Regions from separate parts of the Homo sapiens genome. Here region 2 is linked to region 1. A link means that fine-mapping ties the variant in region 1 to the expression of a gene that starts in the linked region. Tissue or cell type: whole blood. Region 1 holds a variant in brackets; the other region holds the start of a gene. All regions are shown on one strand. Distances are from middle to middle.

What was found. PIP is the estimated chance that this variant, and not a neighbour inherited with it, causes the effect.
Region 2: COLQ starts here. The variant in region 1 is fine-mapped to the expression of COLQ in whole blood (TOPMed, PIP 0.98).

Annotation. Positions count from the first base shown.
Region 1 is chr3:15,449,378-15,453,608 of GRCh38, forward strand. COLQ (collagen like tail subunit of asymmetric acetylcholinesterase) reads right to left here. Exons shown (of 17, transcript NM_005677.4): 17 at 756-2,336. The coding sequence ends at 2,267. Among named protein-coding and RNA genes, the nearest start is that of EAF1, 24 kb to the left of the region's middle. The variant T/A (reference allele first, on the strand shown) is at 1,902.
Region 2 is chr3:15,519,253-15,523,483 of GRCh38, forward strand. COLQ (collagen like tail subunit of asymmetric acetylcholinesterase) reads right to left here and starts at 2,454. Exons shown (of 17, transcript NM_005677.4): 1 at 2,268-2,454. The coding sequence starts at 2,373.

The sequences.
Region 1 (4,231 bases):
TTTGAATTTGGAATTTTAGATTCCACAAAGTCCTGTGGTAGCAAGAGGAGAGGAGGGTCCAGCCCCTTGCCAGATCCCCTTCTGTTTTTACCCCTGGCCCATCCCACACTAAGAAGGGCTTCATGTGTGTCCATGAGGAAATCCCAGCCCACATTCCAAGCCCCATCTATAATTCCTACAAACAACTTTTTGCTGGCCACCCCCAGGCCTGCATGTGTTTCAGGTCACACTCAGGAGGACAGACATGGGCAAGAGGCCTGCAGGTCTAGGAAGCAGGCTCAAGACCACTTGGGTGGGGAACTGTGGTTTCCCAGGTACCTGGAGCATGGTCTAGGAGTGGGGCTTGCAAGCTCCAGCGGGTATGTTACTTTGGCCACATAGAGACCTCACCCTGTGGGGAGGGTAATGGCCAGAGGAGGGCCAGGGTAGGGCCCTCCAGCCTTGGGACCCAGGACAGGGCCTCTCTTGGCCAGATCCAGGAGTAGTACTAGACCTCCATTCCATCCTAAACAAGGTCCTAAAACTAGGGCTGAGGACAGGGCTGGCCTAGCAAGACTGGGTTTTTTGACCTTGGGCAAGTCCATGACATCTCTGGATCTGTTTCCTCCCTTGTGCCTGAGGGAACTGGAATGCTTCCACATTGTAGAACCCTCCACAGAGTTTGGGAAGCAGATTTGAATTTAGACTCCTCCCTCCATCTGGCAATGCTGAGACACCGGCCCCACCCCCACCACCAACGGAAGAGAGAGCCACAGTGGGGAAATGAACTGCCTTTATTTTTTTATTTCCCATCCAGAAACCCCAGTGTGATGGTGGAAGCAGCATGAAAACAACATCTCCCCAGGCCTCGCAGTAGAGGCGAAGGGAACAGGGCTGCCCATGTGCCTGTCTCTAAAGACGCCACCCTCAGGTTGATGTCACCTGTGGGAGACCGGGTCCACCTACAGACACCAGGTGATGGTCCACCAGGCCCCAAGCTCCAGCCTGCTGAGTCCCCAAGACACAGGCTCATTAAATAGCTTCGTACAAAAACCCAAGGGTGTCCCTCCAGCTGGTAAAAATTGGGCAATTTCTACTTGAGGTCTGCTGTGGGGGTGGACCTCACCTTGGAGATGTCTTTCCAGAATAAAACTAAGCCCTACTCAGGAAAAATGGTGATGAAAGGCAGCTCACAGACATGCACGACTAATAATCTTATTGAAAAGGGAGGAGCTCAGGCACACAGGAGGACAAGGCTATGCAATATGCAGACATGAAAGAAATGCCACGGGACGCTGTCAGGGGTCAGCAGGAGGCAAAGAGGTAGAGCTCTGGCCAGGAACGCTCTGCCTAGAGAGAGCCCTCTGCAGCTGGCCCTAGATCGGGGACTCAGGGGAGTATCTGCCTAAGGACCAAGGAGACACCAACAGCCTGCCCAGGTGTGGGCTTGTGCAGGTCACACAGTCCTCATGAGTCTCCTGGACAGGAAATGGACATGAGGGACATTTTTGAGACAGGGGGCAAAGTGCAGAGAGAGCCAAGAGGTCAAGATGGTGCCAGAGATTTTGAAACCACAAGAGCCGCCCCTTTGGGAAACACTGAGAAGAGGAGCCTCTTCTCTAGCCTCTGCTTGGGGCAAGCCTGGGTCAGGTGGGTTCTCAGTACTTTTTCACAGTTAAGTCTTTTCCTGGGCAGCCACATCCACGTCAGGCTGGGCTGGGCTGTGGCCAGTCGAGGGGTCCTTTGGCAGGTTCAAAGCTGTGAGCCACCCCGAGAGAACGTGCCCACTTCCCTGCTTTGTGGTTCATAGGCCTAGAGAGACCCGACAGCGGGCTGCCCAGTGTGAGTGAGAATGCCTGCACGTTTCGGTGGTCAGGGGCGGAGAGGCCTGTACTCCAGATTCCCCAAAGAGATCAAAACAT[T/A]CTAAAACAGCCTGCAGGTCTGTGTGTGTCTAACAGTGCTCAGCCAAGTCCACGGCCTGGGTCAGCAACATTCCAGAAGAGGAAGAGCATTGTAGCCGGTTGTTTGGCCAAATGGTAGCGATGGGGAACAGGTCTCAGGTTGGGCATGTGGAAGGTTTTCCAGTACCTTGGATTAAGACAGGATGCAGTGGTCCTAAATTCTTCCAGTCAGACTGAGTTAACAGCATGTCTTAGTAGCAGGAATTTGTCCTTGTTTTTGTCACACAAAGGTTGGTGGAGACGGGGCCAGGACATGGCCAGTTTGATGACAGTGGAGAAGCTGCTGCCAGTTCTGTGGGGCGCAGCCCACCTTCTCCTCACGGCCCTCAGGTGAAGTAGCGGCAGGGCGTGGAGTCGATGTAGCAGTACTGGGTGCATTGCAGGTCTCCATATGACCTGAGGGAGGCAAAGACACGTTCTAAAAGGCCACCTCTTATATGCTGGTGACTTCCGGTCAAACCTTATCAAACAGCGGCCAAGGGCCAATGGCTCTACAAGAACTTTTTCCCATTCTCATTTGGAGTGAGAGGCCTGGGGGAGTTGAATCATGTCTCTGGGATTTTTGCCTTGAGGTCTAGCTCGGGGCCTGGGTGGAAGGAGGTGGTTGCCCTGCTCTTAGCACAGCATCTGTGAGGGAATCCCCCTTGCTACGATGCAGCCTACCAACAAAAATGTCCTGTATCTGTGAAGCCACTGGCCAGATGTGGCTATTGAGCTCTTGAAATGTAGTTACTGTGACTGAATAACTGCATTTTTTTTTTTTTTTTGAGACAGAGTTTCGCTCTGTCCCCCAGGCTGGAGTGCAGTGGTGTGATCTCGGCTCACTGCAGCCTCTGCCTCCCAGGTTCAAGCGATTGTCCTGCCTCAGCTTCCTGAGTACCTGGGATTACAGGCACGTGCCACCAAGCTCAGCTAATTTTTGTATTTTTAGTAGAGGTGGGATTTCACCATGTTGGCCAGGGTGGTGCCGAACTCTGAACCTCAGGTGACCTGCCCGCCTTGGCCTCCCAAAGTTCTGGAATTACAGGCGTGAGTCACAGTGCCTGGCCTGAGTAACTGCATTTTAAGTTTACTTATAATGACTTTACATTTGAACAGCAGCCTGTGAATGGGGGCTACCATATTGGACAGTGCAGTTTATACCTCTGTAGGCCCGGATGATCATCCGAGACAGGGCGTTAAACCTTACAGGCACAGTCACAGGCGTCCCTCTGAGGCTTCTGGGGAATAGCTGTGTAACCACAGTGAGCGTGGGGGAGCCCTGGGCTCTACTCGATCCTGTACTCCATATCTGATCGTCTACATTGATTTGTCTCTGTGGAGCCATGAAGAGCCAACTCTCTGGCAGAGGCCTGTCAGGGGTCTTCCTTCCTTCAGGGAGAGGGGCACTGCACACAGACACATACATGGAGTGGGGTCCTGGCCAAGCCTAAATGGGCTTAGAGTCTGGGGGAGACTGGGGGAGACTACAGGTCTGTAGTTCTCCCAGCCTGGTTGAACATGCTAATATCTGAGTGTTAGGGAGACCCCCTTGGAAGAGAGAGCACAGAGAAGGCAATGGAGAGACAGGCATGGCTCCCCAGCCCTGCCAAGGGCCCAGGTCCGAGTCTACAAGAGAAAATGGGATGGGAGCAAAAGCTGAAGGGACTGGACTCAAGGACAGAAGAGATCGGAAGCACCAGTAGATCCACTCTGGAACCCAGTGAAGAGCAGGGCATGGCCTAGGTAAAAAGGAACGGCCTCCCCATTTTCCTGAGAACGTTGTACAACTCTGGTTCTGTAAGGACTGGGGAGACATGTACCTTCTGCACCTTGGAAGGAGCCCAGTGGTTACAATCTGGGCATGGAATCAGCACCTCATGGGGCGGTGGCCCTCAGTTGGCTTGGCAGGCGCCAGTGTGGAGCCAGGACACTAGAATACTTGTCCTGAACAACATAAATAGCCACTGAGGACTCTCAGAAATAACTAGAGGGGTCCTTGGAGGGAGTATTTTCTTGGAGGGGCCATGAGCTTGCAAAATTAGATATTAAGGCTGATTTGATCTCACTTGCAGTCACAGGCATGCCTGAGGGATGGGCAGGGTGTTCCAGGGAAGTCAGGTTAGGTAGACATGTCGATTCTTGGAAATGCCCTGAGACCTTTACTCTCCACTGGGCTTCCCACCTAGGCCCACAGCCCAGGAGACTATGTAGTCATGGTGACCACTGGGTTTGGGGGCTGCTCATGCAGGGCAGCAGCTGAGCTCAGAGACCGCAGCTCCCCTCTGGGCCTTGGATGGAGCAGGTGGCTG
Region 2 (4,231 bases), 70 kb after region 1:
TGTTCTCCATCCCAACCCTCCCCTTGGCTCTCTGCCCTCAGTGTTCCAGTCCCTGACCTCCAGGCTCTGCCCTCTGGCTTCAAGTTGGGTTGGCCAATGAGAGGCGCTGCCAAAAGGTGCTTGGATGGGAGGAGAGAGAAGATGGTGTACTTCTCCTTCACTTTCTCCCTGCTTTAGGGCCTTCCATGACCAATGCTCTTGCTTAATGGCCCCTTCTCTAAGGCTCCAAATCTGCCTGGGATCCATTTTCCTATTTGCCCCTCTTGCCTTTTCAAGCACAGGGTGGTAAAGGCATATTGCAGTTGCTAATCTCTAGGTGCCTCAGCATTCCTTGTTGGTTCCCTTAACCCCGCCCACACCTCTCAAAGTGATCCCTTCATTCAGATCTTTTCATCTGAACCACCTGAGTTGCTTCTTTATCCTGCTGTTGCCCTGATTGGTACAGTCTGCAAAAAGCTTACCTAAGAGATATCTATGTTGTGCCAGGGTGCTCTCCAAGGCAAAGAGTTCAAAAGAAAACCAGAGGTTCTTTTCTCTCTAGTTTTCTGAACTCCTTAACCACTTTGGTGCTATTTAAATTAAGTAATACAAAATGATGGTAAACCCCAGTTTGCAGATGAGAAGCTTTTATTCATTCATTCATCAAATATTTATTGATTACTATGTGCCAGGCACTGTTCTGACCCTGGGAAAACAGTAAAGTACAAGAGAGACACATGCCCTGGCCACATGGTGCTTATAGTGTAAGGCCACTGTCTCTCAGAAGTCAGGGAGCTCATCAGAGGCAGGGCTAGAACCAGAAAACTGAGTTTCCTTAAGTCCTAACCTTCAGCAGATTCTCAAAGGAATCCATGACCCAAACATGATTAAGAACCACCAAATTAGGCCAAATTAACTCTCAAGCTTCTCCCTTGAACTGGGGAATGAATAATGACTACTCACTCCTAGAAGAAGCTTGATGCTCTTAACTTGAATTTGCAGGGGCATGTGGGCACACACCCACGGTGACACCACCACTCACCTTTCCTGCCCACCCTCCTGAATTCTCCACAAATCTGCCCCCACCTCCTTCTGTTTCTCACACTTTTATAATTAGCCTCACACCAGTCTCTGAGTCACTCCCTCATGGCCCACAAACGTTGGCTACACAACTTGCTGATGAGCTGTTTTTATCAATGGACAGCAGTTGGGAGCTGGATTCAGAGATGTGCCCTCTCTGAGAGCCTGGCATTTCTGGCCCTCCCTGTGTTTCCAGCAAAGGCAGCGATAGTGAAATTTCTGTCTCAGTTGAAGTATTTATGAGACTCATGTTGGAGGCATAACTAAAACTTTGCTGGGGAGAGTCAGGGGTCACTGAGGTGAATTGAGGGGGGCTGTGAGGGTCTGCCTGCCTCCTTCAAGCCCTCCGGAAACATTTGAGTTTCCTCAGAAAGGTTTAAATAGGCCATACTAGTAACCGAATACTTCCCCTGCTCTGGGTCAGACAAGACAAGGGCAACAGGCTGCTGACCTCAGAAAAGGTTGCAGGCTGGCAGACACAGCCCCTTCCCCAAATCTCCCAGCCTCATACCCGGCAGACACACTCAGCTCCAGACCTGGCTGTCACTGTGGAACCCCCTCCACTTCTCCCTGGAAAGCTCACTTCTCTCAGGACCTCCAGCTGCCTTGTCTGAGGCTGAAGGGAAGTCGCACCCAGGAAGACAGGTCTGGAGAAAGGGAAAACCTAGTCCTGAGGCTGCAACTGCCCCGCCGCTGTTCACCCCCCACCCCACCGGCCCCTGCCACCTGCATTTTCCCTTCGAGGGACTATTGTGGCCATGGATGCTATCTGGGTCTGGAAAGAGGTTTGTTTACTCCACAACAGCCCCTGTGAGGCAAGCCCCCTTCGAAGAGGTCAGAGATGTATTTATAGAAACATCTGAGACTCACTTCTCTATTACTTGCACACCTCTGTCTCTTTTAAGCTCTCCCAAATTCCTGACCAAGATGAAATCATGCAGCAAATGGGGAGAATAGGGGAGGCAGAAACCATTTTTCAAAGTGTCTCTGCTTTGAGCAGCCAGGTAGGAGCCGGTTGGAACAAGGACAGAAGGGGCTTCCGAGACAAGCTCGGGTGACAGGAAGCTGCTGGGGTGGCCGTCTTCCTTCCAACCTCCCTCCACCAACAGTTGAATGGCAAAAACATCAGGACACATTGCAAAACAATCTTCCTTCCTCCCCCTGTCCCCTGACAGATGGAAGAGAGGAAAGTTGTGGCCATCATTTACCTGCTGAGATTGGAAGAACGCTGTTGATGAAAGTCGGCTGAGACACGATAGAGAGGAAGAAAAGCTGAAGATAAATTCCCAAAGTCATTGGATTCAGGACAACCATGCTGGCCAGGGTCTGGCGAGGGTCAAGTTAGAAAGGAGGCTGCTGCGGAGCCTTGCTTATCTCTGCTTTTCTCTTCCTCACTGCTGTTTGCGTGCGCGTGTGTTTGTGTGTGTGTGTGTGCGTGTGTGTGTGTGTCTGTGTGTGTGTGTGTCTTTCCCTCTTTCTCTTTCCCTCTCCCTCCTCCTCACCCCCTCCCTCTCTCTCCCTCCCCCACCTCTCCTGTCTCCCATGCCTTTACCAAGAAAGAATGCCAACCATTTCCCATTAAACTGTCTCCATGCTACAGAGAGTTATATTTATCTCAAGCTCCATATCAAATGCCCACATTAAAATTAAGATGTCAAAATTTTCTTTTTTGGAGACTGAGGTAAGTGGCTAGTGAAGAGGTGATGAGAAGGCAGCCAAGTCTCAGATGTTCACTGGAGGCAGTCCTCAAGGGCAGAGAGATTCCTAATTGGTTATGTGCCACCATCTACCTCCTTGGAACTGGGCAGAAACAACTCTCCTGATTCAAACTGAATTTCATGGAGAAAAACCCCTCCACTGTCAGCCTGTGACATTTTTACCCATTGTGTAACAAATGTAAAGTTAACTTTTAATTTTTTTCTTTAATCATCCAATAAAAAGGAGGAAGGAAGTAGTTTATATTTCCAAACAGCTTTCTCTGTGAAAAAGTGTTTCTCTCTCCAAAAGCTGCAACCTTTTGATTCAATGCAAGGCAAAATAAATGAAAACAGTAAAAGTATAGAAAAGTGAATGATTTTTATCAAACTATATTCAGAAAAATAACATCACTAACTTAATCTTTGGCTAGACAAAATTATTCAAATAAAAATTATCACATTCTTAATACCTTTTATGAGTTTATAAAAGCCTGTTATAGAGATGATTAGATGACTAAAACAAAATAATAATTCACAGAGTTGTTCATTTTGCTTTAATTTACATATTACATGCCTCATAGGAGTTAACTCAGAAACAGTCTGCTAGTTACTGGATGCTGGGGTGGGCATCCTGCCCCTGTGCTCATTATGGGGAAGGTGGAGTTGGGTCAGGGCGTGGTATAAAGTGATATTTTACAGCTGTAGCACCACACTTGGGCTTGACTCTCAGCTCTGAGTGGCAGTGGACAAGCTCACCTCTCTAAGCCTCAGTTTTCTCATCCATACAATGGAGACAATGTTCCCTTTAAAGGTTTGTTGGAAAGTTAAGTGAGGTAATGGGGATGAATCCTACACGGATTAGAACTTGCACATAGGAACAGCACAAAGGAGACCCAAGGGAGCCATGGTAGCCTGGGTGCAAAGATGGCCTCCAAAAGTCCTCCCAACCCAGTGTGTGCATGACACTCTTCCCAGCAAAAAGCAGGGCTAGTTCCCCTCCCTTAAATCTGAGGTGGCTCTGTGACTTACTTTGACCAATAGAATGTGGCTAAAGGGACACTGTGCCATCTCCTGGCCTAGGCCTTAAAAGGCCTGGCAGCTCCTGCTTTTGCCTTTTCTTGAAAATCAGCTGCCACTTTAAAAAGTCTGGACTATTGAAGAGGCCACATGGAGGGGGAAGCAGCCAGCCTCCAGCTGTTCTGACTATCCCAGATGCAGCATCAACAGGCGAGTGAGGCCATTTTGGAACATCTAGCCCTGTCCTGGTCTCAGATGATGCCAGCCACAGGAGTGACCCCAAGTGAGACCCTCGAAAGAACTGCCCAGCCCAGATTACGAAGTCATGAGCAAATAAAACGGCTATTGTTTCAAACCAGTAAGTTTTAGGATGACTTGCTCATCAGCAATAGCTAACTGATACAGAGTTGATAAGGAAAGCTTTTGAAAGCATGAAAAATATACCTGAACTACATTCA